2 separate regions of the Homo sapiens genome follow, and region 1 is linked to region 2. The links come from fine-mapping of genetic effects on gene expression. Tissue or cell type: whole blood. Region 2 holds a variant in brackets; the other region holds the start of a gene. All regions are shown on one strand. Distances are between the middles of the regions.

Region 1 (8,105 bases), 87 kb after region 2:
TGACACTGAGCTCAGGAGCAGCCCATTTAAGAAGCATCTTGTAAATAACAAAGTGACACCTTCGAGATTACAGTTGCAGCTATGCAAGTCATTCACAGAGTAGCTGAGGGCTCTCTTCTGAAGGAGGACCCATTACATGAAGGTAGACCTTTCATGTCTTGTTGCCGACGTCCAAGTCTCTTGCGGTCCAGAAATGCCAGGATGGTTGTTTCAAATGCATTGGGTATGAATTGCACCTTGAATCTGCCCTTCCCTTTTTCGATTAAACCTTTTCACATAGCTGCTGCTGCTCCTTAGCAGTCCATCCCCTGGACGGAGGCGGCCTCTCAGGACCTGGAGCAGAGCTGTAGGGAGCTGCCGTCTCTTATGGTAGATGTGGCCCATCACAATATACCTGCTGCCTGGACAAAATAACCAGAACATTAATTCATAGTGTCTTTTAAATGCCATGAAACAGAAAATGTAAGGCCTTTAAGAAACGCCTAAGCTGCAATCTATTATCTTGCTGCACAAGTTGAAACTGATATTGAGTCTACAGGCATCTGGTGGAAACAGCCTAGCCACCTTTACAAGATAACCAACCAGGCCGGTGTGGTGGCTCACGCCTTTAATCCCAGCACTTTGGGAGGCCGAGGTGGGCAGCTCACTTGAGGTCAGGAGTTTGAGACCAGCCTGGCCAACATGGTGAAACCCCGTCTCTACTAAAAATACAAAAATTGGCAGGGCGTGGTGGCGCATGCCTGTAACCCCAGCTGCTTGGGAGGCTGAGGCAGGATAATCGCTTGAACCCGGCAGGTGGAGGGTGCAGTGAGCCGAGATCGAACCACTGCACTCCAGCCTGGGCGACAGGGCAAGACTCAATCTCAAAAAAAAAAAAAAAAAAAAAAAAAAAGCAGTATGTAACCGGACCACATTACAGAACAAAGGTCCTTATCACAATCTATCAGGATTTCCCAGAGCACATGTCTAGAAAGATGTGGGAGTGGGTATTCCCCGCTACCAACCCCACATACACACCCAAAAAAGCAGCTTTTCTAAACTCGGTTCTGTACAGTCCCTTCTGGCAATGGTGTTTGGTCGTCCACCCCATTTGTCAACATCTATTTATTGACAGCCCGCTTTGTGCCAACCCTTGCTGTTCTCACCCTTGAGGGTGGGGGCTGACAGGGCTTAAATCACAGAGTGGCCGGAATAATACCTGTCGTCTAAATCCCATTCATGTCATTGTTTCCCATCGCTCCCAAAAAAAGGCTGGGCGACCTACAGCCCGGGCTGTGGCACCCACGTTACAAACGGTGGTATAAAGTACATATGCAGCGTCATTCAGGTCAGTTTCAATACCAGGTTTAAACTCTGGACACGGCTTATTGCAGCTGGAGGAGTCCAGGGCTAACATGTGGACTCGGAAGAAGAAGCCGTCGGGGGTGAGGTACAGGCGGTTCATCTTGTACAGCCCGTCCCGATCCACCAGCAGGGTCACCAGCCGGATGCCCGCGCCCAGCACGTCCACATCGTGCACGATCCCGTTCACCGCTGCTTCCGAAAAACAGTTTGGAGAAGAGCATTACCCCGAGTTCCTCTCCCAGTCCCCCAGGAGGTGGTTTTTAGCAACCGCGAAACGGCCCGCACGGGTCAGGCGCCCTGGGATCTCGCGGGCGGATTCTCCGGGGCTCGGAAAGGCTCGCGGGGCGGCGGGGCGGCGGCGCGGCGGCCGGGCTCACCGAATTCGCTCTCGCAGAACGCCTCGCGTTCGTCCAGATCGGACCGGCAGGCGCGCGCGCAGGGCTCAGCGCCGGGCTCCGCGTCCCTCTGCGGCGGGCTGAGGCCGAAGCTGAGGCTGAAGCGCGGCGGCGGCGCGGGCGCGGGTCCCGGGGCCAGCGCGGCGGCGCGCGGCCGGTTGGGGTGGGCGTGGCCGGCGGAGCCCTCGGTGGCGAGCGCGGGCGGCCGGGCGGCGGGGAAGCGCAGGGCCCGTGAGCGCGCGCGTCGCGGGGCGTCCTCCGACGCGGGCTCGCGGCGCGGCGACGCGCGGTTCTCGGCTTGCGCCAGGCGCGGGCCCGGCGGGCCAGCGGGCGCGCGTGCGGCCTCCCGGAAGCTGGCCTGGTTGTCGGCCGGCGGTGGGGGCTTCCGGCGGCGCGGGTCAGGCCAGGCGCGGGCGGCGGGAGCGACCTCGGCCGCGCGCGGCCGCTGCGGGGCCTCAAGGAGTGGCTGCGCGCGGGGCCCCGGTGTCTCCTCCGCGCTCGGGCAGCCGCGGGAGTCCGGCTTTCTGCTGTGCGGCGGCGAGGCTGTGGGGAGAGAAGAGGAGAGGCGGGAAGGCGGTGGGGGAGGAGAAGCAGTGAGGGGAGGCCGTCGGGGAAAGCCGAGGAAGCCGAGAAGGAAGAAGAGGGAAGGGGAGGCTGAGACGGGAGGCCGAGAGGGGAAGGGAAGCCAGGAGGGGAGGAGGCCGCTAGTGGGGCAGGGGCGCTGCAGAAGAAGGGCTCTGGGAGGGGGAGAGGAGATAGAGGACAAGGGAGGCTTCGCAGGCACCTGCAAGAGGAGAGATGGGAGGGAGGCCCGGAGGCCTGGAAGTGAAGCAGGGAGAACCCGGACGCAGCGTCGCGGCCAAGCGGGGCACGCGCTTCCCAGGCCCCAAAGGAAGAAGGATACGAGGGTCTTGACCTCTAAGATTATAGCTTTTAAAATTACAACCCCCTATTTACTCTAAGACTAAACATGTCTTACAACACTGGTTAGATAACAAACTTTTTTGCCCTTCCTTTAATATATACGTATATGTGTGTATGTGTGCGTGTGCGTGTGTGTGTGTGTGTGTGTGTGTATATATATATATATATATAAAACATATATAAACATCCGCCTCTTTGCTATTTACAGTTTGTTGAGAAAGTACCAAGAGCAAACCCCAGGGGGAAAGGTCTCATATTACAGGTTCTCCTAATTCTTTAAGCGCCCCTGACAACAGAACTATTTGGTTTTCCCATCCATGTTTACACTGTCATCCCGGTCTCTGCAGAATCGAGCATTTGTAAGTGGATTTTTATCTGGCTTCTTGGACACCACTTACTGGTAAACCACAGCTAAGGAAGGTTTTAAAAGCTTGGCTGGGAGGCAGAGAGGCCCCTGGTTAAGTATAAAAGCACACGTCGCTTACATTTTTTTCCCCATTAGATGATGGAGGAAAGACTCCTAAATGGTATGGCATGAAAACAAATTTTTAAAATTATTAATGATTTTCCCTAGTTCTGCAGACAGGTTGGTGAGTAAACCTCAGCCAGCTTGGGAGCTGGGCACCTTTCCATACCAGTTACACAATTTCACCTCCTTGCTTGCCTGGGTCCCAGTGCCCTCCAAACAGGCAAGAACTAGCCTTTATTTTTCTCTCCCCTTGCATTAAAGAGATGGATCTGCCCATTTGCAGCTCTGGCAACACTTCATTTAAAGTTGATCAGTCTTGCCAAATCGATAATCTGCTTTAAAATCAGCTTTCACCCAGCAATAATAGCTGGTTAGAGTTCATGTTTTTGCAAAGAGGTTGATTCTGACTCATTATGTTGTTAAACGGTTGTGCCATGCACAGCTGAATAAAGTTCTGGTGGATATCCAATTCCTGACTGTCAACTGTTGACCTCACAACTGCTTCCCCATTGATATAACCATCTGTTGTCATGGGAAAGATTGTCTGATATTTGGGTTAAATGCCACTGAAGTCATTCAATTTCCATGTGGAAAAATAACCCAGAGTAAATTGCCCTGTGAGGTACGGAAACTGTTTTTCCCAGAGATAGCGAAGCCGACAGAACATCCAAATAAAAGCAAAACAAAAACACGATCCCCCAGAGAACCCCTCATTTCTTCACGGGCTGAGTAACTTAATTTCATTTCGTGCATGAAGTATAAGAGTGTGTGCGTGTTAGTTAAACCCCGGCTCAGGTGTCCCAAGGTTGTGCGCTGGGGCTGCGGGGAGAGCAAAGTGCCCGGGGCTGCCGGATTTCGGCCCCGCTTCCCCCCAGCCCTCCACAGCGCCCCCCGCAGCCCCTGCTCACCCAGTCGAGGGGGGCGGACCCCGCGGCGTCCTGCGAGCCCGGCCCGGGCACGGCTCCCGAAAGGCGCGCCACGACCCCTTTTGACACTTTCCCTCCTCCGTGATGGAGCAACTACTTAACATGCAAAGTTTTCCCCAGCCTGCCCGGCTTGCTCGGGATCATTTCAGTAGCTAAATTGGCTTCTTTCCGAAAAGGCTGCCAAGAGACACGAAACCTTGGGGACACACTTTGCTCCTTTATAAGACGAACGCAGACCCGGGGTGTCCTCTCTTGCGAGCTCTGACCCCCCTCCTCGTCCCACGTTTCACTGAGCCTCCTTCCCAGCTCCCCCCCACAGATCCCCGCTCCGCTCCCAGGGCCCCGCACTACACCAATCTTACTTTTTCTCTCCGCCACCGGTGCTTCGGGGGATGATCCGACGATCAAACAGAGGAGCCAGAAAGCTCTAGCTGTCATTTTTGCAGACAGGGTTCCCAGGCTCTAAAAGTGAGCCTGGTCTTTTGCTTGCTTTCTCTCCCCCAACCCCTTCTCCACACCCCCACCCCCGTTCATGCTAATGAGGGGCAGCCTTTGGGGAAACGGGAATCACTCGCTGAGCAGACCATTGGAACAAAACCGAGCCGCAGGGATTTCTCCCTCTTCCTTCCTAAGGAGGACGAGCACATGGCCTTGCAAAGTTGTCCCCGGGAATGTCTGTCCTGTGATCTGCGGGCGAGGAGAGCATCACAGCCTAAACTTTAAACCTGTGTGCGTTTGCGCGCTGGGGTGGGGGCAGCAAAGGGTGGGGTGACAAGTGCAGAGAATAAGCGTGTTTCGGGACTGAGGGACTGGGTGGGGGAGAACGAGTGACGGGAGCTTTTTTCTAGATTAGGTCAACAACAAATAGGAAAATAGTGCTTAAGACAGCGTGGGTTTGTGGAAGGGAGATTCCAGATGACAGAGAATGTATCCTGGAATGTGTGTGTTAGGCAATTTCTAGAGAAACCAAGTCACTGCTTCCTTAGTAAAACTGTTTCATTATATATCACAGCTCATTGTAACCTCTGCCTCCCGGACTAAAGCGATTCTCGTGCCTCAGCCTCTCAAGTAGCTGGGATTACAGGCATATGCCACCATGCGAGGCTAATTTTTGTATTTTTAGCAGAGACGGGATTTCACCGTGTTGGCCAGGCTGGTCTCAAACTCCTGACCTCAAGTGATCCACCCACCTTGGCCTCCCAAAGTGCTGGGATTACAGCATGAGCCACCACGCCGGGCCCAGAGGTCTAATTATTAATCAGAATGTTGCCTGTTGAGGCCAGGCAGGGTGGTTCATGCCTGTAATCCCAGTACTTTGGGAGCCCGAGACAGGAGGATCTCTTGAGCTCAGGAGTTCAAGACCAGCCTGAGCAACATGGAGAGAACCTGTCTCTACAAAAAATACAAAAATTAGCCAGGCATGGTGGCTCGCATCTGTGGTCCCAGCCACTTGGGAGGCTGAGGTGGGAGGATCACTTGAGCCTAGGAGGTGGAGGTTGCAGTGAGCCGAGATTGTGCCACTGCACTCCAGCCTGGGTGACAGAGAGAGGCCCTGTCTCAAAAAAAAAAAAAAAAAAAAAAGAAGAAGAAGAAGAAGAAGAAAGAAAAGAAAGAGGAGGAGCCAGGCACAGTGGCTCACGCCTGTAATCCCAGCATTTTGGGAGGCCAAGGCAGGCGGATCACGAGGTCAGGAGTTCAAGACCAGCCTGGCCAAATTAGTGCAACCCTGTCTCTACTAAAATTACAAAAAAGTTAGCAGGGTGTGGTGGCACACACCTGTAGTCCCAGCTACTCAGGAGGCTGAGGCAGGAGAATCGCTTGAACCTGGGAGGCAAAGGTTGCAGTGAGCTGAGACTATGCCATTGCACTCCAGCCTGGGTGATAGAGTGAGACTTTTGTCTCAAAAAGAAAAAAAAAAAGAGGAGGAGGAGGAGAACGAAGAAGAAGAAGAAGGAGAGCAGGGCCAGGTGTGGTGGCTCACGCCTGTAATCCCAGCACTTTGGGAGGACAAGGTGGGTCGATCACGAGGCCAGGAGATCCAGACCATCCTGGCTGACACAGTGAAACCCCGTCTCTACTGAAAATACAAAAAATTAGCCGGGCGTGGTGGCGGGCGCCTGTAGTCCCAGCTACTCAGGAGGCTGAGGCAGGAGACTGGCGTGAACCTGGGAGGCGGAGCTTGCAGTGTGGCGCCACTGCCCTGCCCTCCAGCCTGGGTGACAGAGTGAGACTCTGTCTCAAAAAAAAAAAAAAAAAAAAAAAAGAAGGAGAGGAGGAAGAGGAGGAGGAGGAGGAAAGAAGTTTGCCTGTTGAGCATTAAATCAAAGAAAATAAATTTGCTGGCTGGGTGCGGTGGCTCAACCTGTAATCCCAACACTCTGGGAGGCCAAGGTGGGCAGATCACGAGGTCAGGAGTTCGAGACCAGCCTGGCCAACATAGTAAAACCCCATATCTACTAAAAATACAAAAATTAGCGAGTCATGGTGGCGGGCACCTGTAATCCCAGCTACTTGGGAGGCTGAGGGAGGAGAATCGCTTGAACCCAGGAGGCAGAAGTTGCAGTGAGCCAAGACTGCGCCACTACACTCCAGCCTGGGCAACAGCACAGGACTCTGTCTCAAAAAAAAAAAAAAAAAAAGAAAAAGAAAAAGAAAAAAAAGAAAAGAAATTTGCCTGTTGAGCATTAAATCAAATTGCAGCTAAGGAGATGAGCTAATCTTCCCTCATTCAGGTGTTAGAGGAGTGAATTATATTCTCCATCCAAAAGAGTAAACCTCTACAGCCCCTGCAAAGCTTGGGTATACCAGAGTCAGGGTCTCCAGACCCTAGACAAGACCAGATAAACACTAGTAAATTCATGCCCTTGGGGCCCTGTTTATAGATGTCCTCAGATCCCCTTCTTTCACGTGCTCTTTCTTTAAGTCAAGTGGAATAAAATTCACTAGGCTTAAGATTTCTCAGTTACAACCACATCTCTAACATACCTTCTTACCATTACATTCAAATCACCCAGAACCTATTGGGGGTGTTCCCGAAACTCTTCTGTTGCAGGAATGTTGTGAATGCCCTGAAACCCACACCCTGAAATGTAGAGGCAGGGAGCAGGCTGGATGGCTCCCAGGGGCTCCCAGAGGCTCCTGGGGTGGCACCAGCTGGAAGAACCTGCCAGAGTCCAGTCCTGGGTCTTGGGCAGTGTCTGGCTTGAGCCTTAGAAATCACACTAATGGGCCAGGCGCGGTGGCTCACGCCTGTAATCTCAGCCCTTTGGGAGGCTGAGGTGGGCGGATCACCTGAGGTCAGGAGTTTGAGACCAGCCTGACCAACATGGTGAAACCCTGTCTCTACTAAAAATACAAAAATAGCCAGGCATGGTGGCAGGTGCCTGTAATCCCAGCTACTTGGTAGGCTGAGGCAGGAGAATCGCTTGAACCCGGGAGGCGGAGGTTGCAGTGAGCCGAGATCGCACCATCGCACTCCAGCCTAGGGGACAAGAGCGAGACTTCGTCTCAAAAAAGAAGAAGAAGAAAAAAAAGAAACCACACTAATGGTGGAAGGTACAAAGAGTTCAAAGAGACTGATCTATGTAGCCAGAATGCCAGTTTATTAATTTACAATGAGAAATCAAATCAGAAATGCAAACTCATGTCAGCCTGGGTAGCATTCTCTTTCTATAAACAAGCCACAGAGGAAGCCAAGTTATCCTCAGGGTGCTTGGTAATATAAACCAGAGCCTGGGGAGTTTGTCACCTGATTGGAATGTTTAACAGTATTGGTTTCTGACAGCCTAAGTGTTTGTCTCTGCAATAGGTGTGTATACCTGTCAGGAGGAAGAACCCAAGAGACCAACTGGCATTCCCTTCCTTGATAATTTCTGGTATTTTGAGTGTGTGTTTCTGCTTAGCAGATATTTATTGAGCATCTACTCTGTGTTGTATAATAAAGAATTTGAAGTCCAGGCGCAGTGGCTCACACATGTAATCCTGGCACTTTGGAAGGTTGAGGCGGGCGGATCACTTGAGTTTAGGAATTCAAGACCAGCCTGGGCA
Region 2 (8,105 bases):
AGTGACAGGATATGGTGGTTGGAGCTGGATTAGTAAAACTCATGTTTATAGGTTTGTTCCTAAATTGCCAGGCAATACTAATGTGAATTACAGAAAGTCGTTAGAAGGAAGTAAGTAATTAAAATTACATGTCCTGCATAATCGTTTCTGCTTTATATTTCTTATAAATTTGTAGTATTTTGACTATATTTTAGATAAAAACATTTTTCTGAAATTTTTATTCGTACTGCAGAATTACTAGTTTAGTTTACTAAAACCCTAAAACTTTAAAAATTACCTTTATTCACAGGAATTTGATGTCTCAGATTTCCGTAAGATTGTAGAATGGAACTTGTTTTTTAGAAGACGCCTCAGCCGCCTGATTATCATTTTTCAAAATCTTAAATTTAGGCCAGGCAGCCAGGCGCGGTGGTTCACGCCTGTAATCCCAGCACTGTGGGAGGCTGAGGCAGGTGGATTACTTGAGGTCAGGAGTTCTAGACTACCTGGCTAACATGGTGAAACCCTGTCTCTACTAAAAATACAAAATTTGCTGGGTGTGCTGGTACACGCCTGTGATCCCAGCTACTGAGGAGGCTGAGGCAGGAGAATGGCTTAAACCCAGGAGGCAGAGGTTGCAGTGAACCAAGATTGCACCACTGCACTCCAGCCTAGGTGACAGAGCAAGACTCTGTCTCAAAAAAAAAAAAATTCAGGCCAGCCACAGTGGCTTACACCTATAATCCCAGTGCTTTGGGAGGCTGAGGCAGGAGGATCACTTGAGGCCAGGAGTTCAAGGCCAGCCTGGGCAACATAGCAAGACCCCATCTCTACAAAAACGTTTTAAAAATTAGCCAGGTGTAGTGCCACATGGCTGTGGTCCCAGCTACTTGGGGGTCTGAGGCAGGAGGATTGCTTGAGGCCAGGAGTTTGAGGCTGCAGTAAGCTATAATTGTGCTGTTGCACTCGAGCCTGGATGACAGAACCAGACTCAATCTCTTAAAAAAAAAAATCTTAATTCAGTACTAATTCACTGAGGAGTCATGTATCTAGTAACCTTAGCATTGTTGCAAGTAAGAGAAAACCAGAAAGAAAGTGATAGAGGCTTCCAAAACACTGTCACATAAATGAGGTTTTTCAGTGAGAACATTTGGACACAGGATGGGGAACATCACACACCGGGGCCTGTCGTGGGGTTGGGGGAGGTTGGGGGATAGCATTAGGAGATATACCTAATGTAAATGTAGAGTTAATGGGTGCAGCACACCAACATGGCACATGTATACATATGTCACAAACCTGCACGTTGTGCGCACGTACCCTAGAACTAAAGTATAATTTAAAAAAATAATGAGGTTTTTTTTGGGGGGAGGGGTTGTTTTTGTTTTTTTGAAATGGAGTCTTGCTCTGTCACCAGGCTGGAGTGCAGTGGCGTATCTGGCCTCACTGCAACCTCCGCCTCCTGGGTTCAAGCAGTTCTCCTGCCTCAGCCTCCCGAGTAGCTGGGACTAAAAGTGCACACCACCATGCCCAGCTAATTTTTGTATTTTTTATAGAGACAGGGTTTCACTATGTTGGCCAGGGTGGTCTCAATCTCTTGACTTTGTGATCTGCCCGCCTCGGCCTCCCAAAGTGCTGGGATTACAGGTGTGACCACTGCGCCTGGCCTATAAATAAGCTATTAATTGAGTTTTTACAACTGGCTAATGAGCTTTAGTATTTAGAATCACCGAACTCTATAGAGATGAACTGCTCTTTTAAAAGATCATGTGTTTTTAAACTCAAGTTCAATGAGCCGATTATTTCACGAGGGTGCCAGGTGACATAGTGAAGACCACATATGCACAGAGTGATAGAACGCTGGCAGGTCCCAAGCCCTTTTCTGTGATTCTTCTCTTACCTCACCACTATCCTGCTCTTGACAGGATTACGGTTTCTTTGCACTCTCTTCTCTTTCTTCAGCCAGACCTTTCTGGAAGAAATCATTCATTTAAATTAAAAATAGATATATTTTTTATATCTATTTTCTCACACCAGTATCTTGCTCGCGACAGAATTATGATTTCTTTGCACTCTCTTCCCTTCAGCCAGACCTTTCTGGAAGAAATCATTCATTTAAATAAAAAATGGATATACCTTGCTAGGTCCTTGGGATATTTAGGTTCAAGTGAAGAAGGTAAAGAATAGGAAAATGCCTTTAAGTCCAGGTGCCATGGCTCACACCTGTGATGGGATGCCAAGGCAGGGGAGGATCAGTTGAGCCCAGGAGTTCAAGAAACAGCCTGGGCAACATGGCAAATCCCCATCTCTACAAAAAATGCAAAAATTAGCCAGACATATTGGTACACACCTGTATTCCCAGTTACTCAGGAGGCTGATGAGGGAGGATCGTTTGAGCCCAGGAGTTCAAGGCTGCAGTGAGCTGAGATGAACCCACTGTGCTCCAGCCTGGGTGACAGAGCAAGACACTGTCTCCAAAAAAAAAAAAAAAACCTTTAAGTCCCAAGAATATTCATCTAGACAGTAGTTCTGTTTTGGGAGGCTTGATTTTTTTTTTTTTTTTGTAATTATTATGGGAAATTTAAAACTACACAAATACAAAGAGAATAATGAACTCATTCAGCTTCAACAATTATCAAAGTTTATCACTTTTTTTTTTTTTTTGAGATGGAGTTTTGCTCTGTCACCCAGGCTAGAGTGCAGTGGCATGGTCTCAGCTCACTGCAACCTCCACCTCCCGGGTTCAATCAATTCTCTTGCCTCAGCCTCCCAAATAGCTGGGATTACAAGTACCCGCCACCACGCCGAGCTAATTTTTGTATTTTTAATAGAGACGGGGTTTTGCCATGTTGGCCAGGCTGATCTCGAACTCCTGACTTCAAGTGATCTGCCTGCCTCGGCCTCCCAAAGTGCTGGGATTACAGGTGTGAGTCACTGCTCCCAGCCAAATTTTATCACTCTTTGTTTAGTTGTCACTGACCACTTTTTTTAATCCTGCAGTGTTTTAAAATAAATCCCAGAAATCATGTTTCACCAGAAGTTCAATATGTATCTCTACGTAGACATTTTTCCATAACCATCATGTCATTATCACACTCAACAAATTAACCGTAATTAACAAATTAATAATCTGATTCTCAGTCCATATTCCACTTGCCCTGGTTGTCTTAGAGATACCTTTTTACTGTAAGCAGTAAACAAGGCCACAGATTGCCTTTGATCCTTTTTTTCAGTCTTTTATTCTGTTATATAAACTTCAAGGAGTCCAAGAACCATTGAAATAGATTACAAAAGTTTATATACATACTTTTTTCCTTGGTAGAGGATCATAGCATTTATCCATTTCTAATAGGGTTCTGTGACACAAAGTATGTTAGAAACCACTGATATGGGCTTTCTGGAATGATCAAATAGATTGTGATAATCCTTCATACACGAGTTTTCTTTCATTTTATTTTTTTATGTGTGTGACAGAGTCTTGCTCTGTCAGCCAGGCTGGAGTGCAGTGGCACCATCTCAGCTCGCTGCAAACTCTGCCTCCCAGGTTGAAGCAATTCTCCTGCTTCAGTCTCCCAAGTAGCTGGGACTACAGGCTCGTACCACCATGACTGGCTAATTTTTGTATTTTTAGTAGAGATGGGGTTTCACCTTGTTGGGCTGGTGTTGAACTCCTGGCCTCAAGTGATCTGCCTGCCTCAGCCTCCCAAAGTGCTGGGATTACAGGCATGAGCCACCACACTCACCCAAATTTTATCACATTTGTTTCAGTTGTCACTGACCACTTTTTTTTTTTTTTTTTTTGAGATGGAGTCTCACTCTGTCACCCAGGCTGGAGTGCAGTGGTACGATCTCAGTTCACTGCAGCCTCCAACTCCCAGGTTCCAGCGATTCTCCTGCCTCAGCCTCCTGAGTAGGGATCACAGTTGCACGCCACCATGCCTGGCTAATTTTTGTATTTTTAATAGAGGCGGGGTTTCACCATGTTGGCTAGGCTGGTCTTGAACTCCTTGTCCTCAAGTGATCCGCCCACCTTGGCATCCCAAAGTGCTGGGATTACAGGCATAAGCCACTACACCCATCCAAATTTTATCACTCTTGTTTCAGTTGTCACTGACAATTTTTTTTTTTTTTTTTTTTTTTGTTGACACGGAGTCTCACTCTGTCGCCCAGGCTGGAGTGCAGTGGCGTGACCTCAGCTCACTGCGACCTCCGCCTCCTGGGTTCAAGCA[A/G]TTCTCCTGCCTCAGCCTCCTGAGTAGCTGAGATCACAGGTGTGCACCACCACACCCAGATAATTTTTGTATTTTTAGTAGAGATCGGGTTTCACCATGTTAGCCAGGCTGGTCTCAAACTCCTGACCTCAGGTGATGCACCCACCTCGGCCCCTCAAAGTGCTGGGATTACAGGCATGAGCCACCGCACCAGCCTATAGTATTAATGTTTATCTTGTAGCTGACTATGTTACTGAATCACAGTTTTTTGTTTTTTTTTTAATTTTTGGACACAGAGCCTCACTCTGTCACCCAGGCTGGAGTGCAGTGGCATGAGCCACCGCACCAGGTCCCCCCCCCCCTTTTTTTTTTTATCCTGCAGTGTTTTAAAACAAATTTCCTAAATCATATTTCACCAAAAATGTTCACAAAGTTTTCTGAAATGTCTGAAGTTCAGGCATTCCTTCTGTGTTTTAGGTCAGCCAGGCATATAGGATTATATGGTACCTTATACTCAATAAGACCTTTGTCTTTTTTTTTTTTTTAAATGAAAAAATGAAACATAACTTGCTGGAAATTACTTGTTTATTTTCACTAAACTTGACATATTAAAGTGCTAATACTCTGGAAATAACGTAAATTATCGTTACATGGTTCTTTTTAGCCAAAAATAATATGGATGAAAATATGGATGAGTCAGATAAAAGAAAATGTTCACGAAGTCCAAAAAAAATAAAAATAGAGCCTGATTCTGAAAAAGATGAGGTAAAAGGTTCAGATGCTGCAAAAGGAGCAGACCAAAATGAAATGGATATCTCAAAGATTACTGAGAAGAAGGACCAAGGTAAGGAGAGTCAGCTGTGGAGGGCAGCCTGGGGGTGATAAGAATGCACTGGATCAGGGTCCCACCACAGGAAAGGTACTGCGTTGTGTTTTCTTGATAACAGCTTTATCAAAACATAATTGATATCCCATACAATTCACCCAATTAAAGTGTAAATTCAGTGGCTTTTAGTATATTCACAAAGTTCAACCATTATTACATCAATCTTAGAACATTTTCATAACCTTGAAAAGAAGCCTCATTCATACCCATTAGCAGTTACTTCCCAACCCCTCCCGAAAGTGCCACCAGCTTAGTGGTCTACTTTCTGTCTCTCTGGATTTGCCTATTTTGGACAGTCCATAGAAATGGAATCAGACAATATGTGGTCCTTTGTGGCTGGCTTCATCCACTTAGCATGGTTTTAAGGTTCATCCATGTTGTAGCATTTATCAGTACTTTCTTTTTGTTTCTGAATAATACTCTGTATGGATATGCCACATTTTGTTATCCATTCATCAGTTGATGGACATTGGGCTGTTTCCTCTTTTGGCTATACGAATAATGCTGCTATGAACATTCATGCAGAAGTTTTTTGTGGCCATGCGTTTTCACTTCTCTTGGCGATATACCTAGGAATGGAATTACTGGATCATATGGTAACTCTGTTTAACCTTTTGAGGAACTACATTGTCTTTTGTAACAAGTCATTTTTAAAAAAAAACTAGATAAGCTAGATAATGCATGTGGCTAGAGATACTTTAAAAAAATATTTTTGGCTGGGCGTGGTGGCTCATGCCTGTAATCTCAGCACTTTGGGAGGCTGAGGTGGGCGGATCACCTGAAGTCAGGAGTTCAAGACCAGCCTGGCCAACATTGCGAAACCCTGTCTCTACTGAAAATTCAAAAATAAGCCAGGCATGGTGGCACATGCCTATAATCCCAGCTACTTGGGAGGCTGAAGCATGAGAATTGCTTGAACCCAGGAGGCGGAGGTTGCAGTGAACTGAGATCATGCCACTGCACTCCAGCCTGGGCAACAGAGTGAGACTCCATCTCAAAAAAAAAAATATATATATATAAATTCCTCCTTTCAGAGTAAAAATTACATTTATATAAATGTCTTTGTTTCACAGATGTGAAGGAGCTCTTAGATTCTGACAGTGATAAACCCTGCAAGGAAGAACCAATGGAAGTAGACGATGACATGAAAACAGAGTCACATGTAAATTGTCAGGAGAGTTCTCAAGTAGATGTGGTCAATGTTAGTGAGGGTTTTCATCTAAGGACTAGTTACAAAAAGAAAACAAAATCATCCAAACTAGATGGACTTCTTGAAAGGAGAATTAAACAGTTTACACTGGAAGAAAAACAGCGACTCGAAAAAATCAAGTTGGAGGGTGGAATTAAGGGTATAGGAAAGACTTCTACAAATTCTTCAAAAAATCTCTCTGAATCACCAGTAATAACGAAAGCAAAAGAAGGGTGTCAGAGTGACTCGATGAGACAAGAACAGAGCCCAAATGCAAATAATGATCAACCTGAGGACTTGATTCAGGGATGTTCAGAAAGTGATTCCTCAGTTCTTAGAATGAGTGATCCTAGTCATACCACAAACAAACTTTATCCAAAAGATCGAGTGTTAGATGATGTCTCCATTCGGAGCCCAGAAACAAAATGTCCGAAACAAAATTCCATTGAAAATGACATAGAAGAAAAAGTCTCTGACCTTGCCAGTAGAGGCCAGGAACCCAGTAAGAGTAAAACAAAAGGAAATGATTTTTTCATCGATGACTCTAAACTAGCCAGTGCAGATGATATTGGTACTTTGATCTGTAAGAACAAAAAACCGCTCATACAGGAGGAAAGTGACACCATTGTTTCTTCTTCCAAGAGTGCTTTACATTCATCAGTGCCTAAAAGTACCAATGACAGAGATGCCACACCTCTGTCAAGAGCAATGGACTTTGAAGGAAAACTGGGATGTGACTCTGAATCTAATAGCACTTTGGAAAATAGTTCTGATACCGTGTCTATTCAGGATAGCAGTGAAGAAGATATGATTGTTCAGAATAGCAATGAAAGCATTTCTGAACAGTTCAGAACTCGAGAACAAGATGTTGAAGTCTTGGAGCCGTTAAAGTGTGAGTTGGTTTCTGGTGAGTCCACTGGAAACTGTGAGGACAGGCTGCCGGTCAAGGGGACTGAAGCAAATGGTAAAAAACCAAGTCAGCAGAAGAAATTAGAGGAGAGACCAGTTAATAAATGTAGTGATCAAATAAAGCTAAAAAATACCACTGACAAAAAGAATAATGAAAATCGAGAGTCTGAAAAGAAAGGACAGAGAACAAGTACATTTCAAATAAATGGAAAAGATAATAAACCCAAAATATATTTGAAAGGTGAATGCTTGAAAGAAATTTCTGAGAGTAGAGTAGTAAGTGGTAATGTTGAACCAAAGGTTAATAATATAAATAAAATAATCCCTGAGAATGATATTAAATCATTGACTGTTAAAGAATCTGCTATAAGGCCATTCATTAATGGTGATGTCATCATGGAAGATTTTAATGAAAGAAACAGCTCCGAAACAAAATCGCATTTGCTGAGTTCTTCAGATGCTGAAGGTAACTACCGAGATAGCCTTGAGACCCTGCCATCAACCAAAGAGTCTGACAGTACACAGACGACCACACCCTCAGCATCTTGTCCAGAAAGCAATTCAGTTAATCAGGTAGAAGATATGGAAATAGAAACCTCAGAAGTTAAGAAAGTTACTTCATCACCTATTACTTCTGAAGAGGAATCTAATCTCAGTAATGACTTTATTGATGAAAATGGTCTGCCCATCAACAAAAATGAAAATGTCAATGGAGAATCTAAAAGAAAAACCGTCATCACAGAAGTCACCACGATGACCTCCACAGTGGCCACAGAATCAAAAACTGTGATCAAGGTAGAAAAAGGCGATAAGCAAACTGTGGTTTCTTCCACAGAAAATTGTGCAAAATCCACTGTCACAACCACCACTACAACAGTGACCAAGCTTTCCACACCCTCCACAGGCGGCAGTGTGGACATCATCTCTGTAAAGG

Evidence for each region. PIP is the estimated chance that this variant, and not a neighbour inherited with it, causes the effect.
Region 1: it holds the start of C17orf58, and the variant in region 2 is fine-mapped to the expression of C17orf58 in whole blood (INTERVAL, PIP 0.98).

What each region holds. Positions count from the first base shown.
Region 1 is chr17:67,991,703-67,999,807 of GRCh38, forward strand. C17orf58 (chromosome 17 open reading frame 58) reads right to left here and starts at 4,767. Exons shown (of 4, transcript NM_001382359.1): 1 at 4,421-4,767; 2 at 1,722-2,282; 3 at 1,342-1,533; 4 at 1-401. The coding sequence starts at 4,496. The coding sequence ends at 211. RefSeq lists an enhancer at 1,393-1,442 and silencers at 1,683-1,742, 1,853-1,932, 1,983-2,242, 3,997-4,086.
Region 2 is chr17:67,904,731-67,912,835 of GRCh38, forward strand. It overlaps BPTF (bromodomain PHD finger transcription factor), which reads left to right. Exons shown (of 28, transcript NM_182641.4): 9 at 1-110; 10 at 4,852-5,031; 11 at 6,147-8,105. Among named protein-coding and RNA genes, the nearest start is that of BPTF, 83 kb to the left of the region's middle. The variant A/G (reference allele first, on the strand shown) is at 4,209.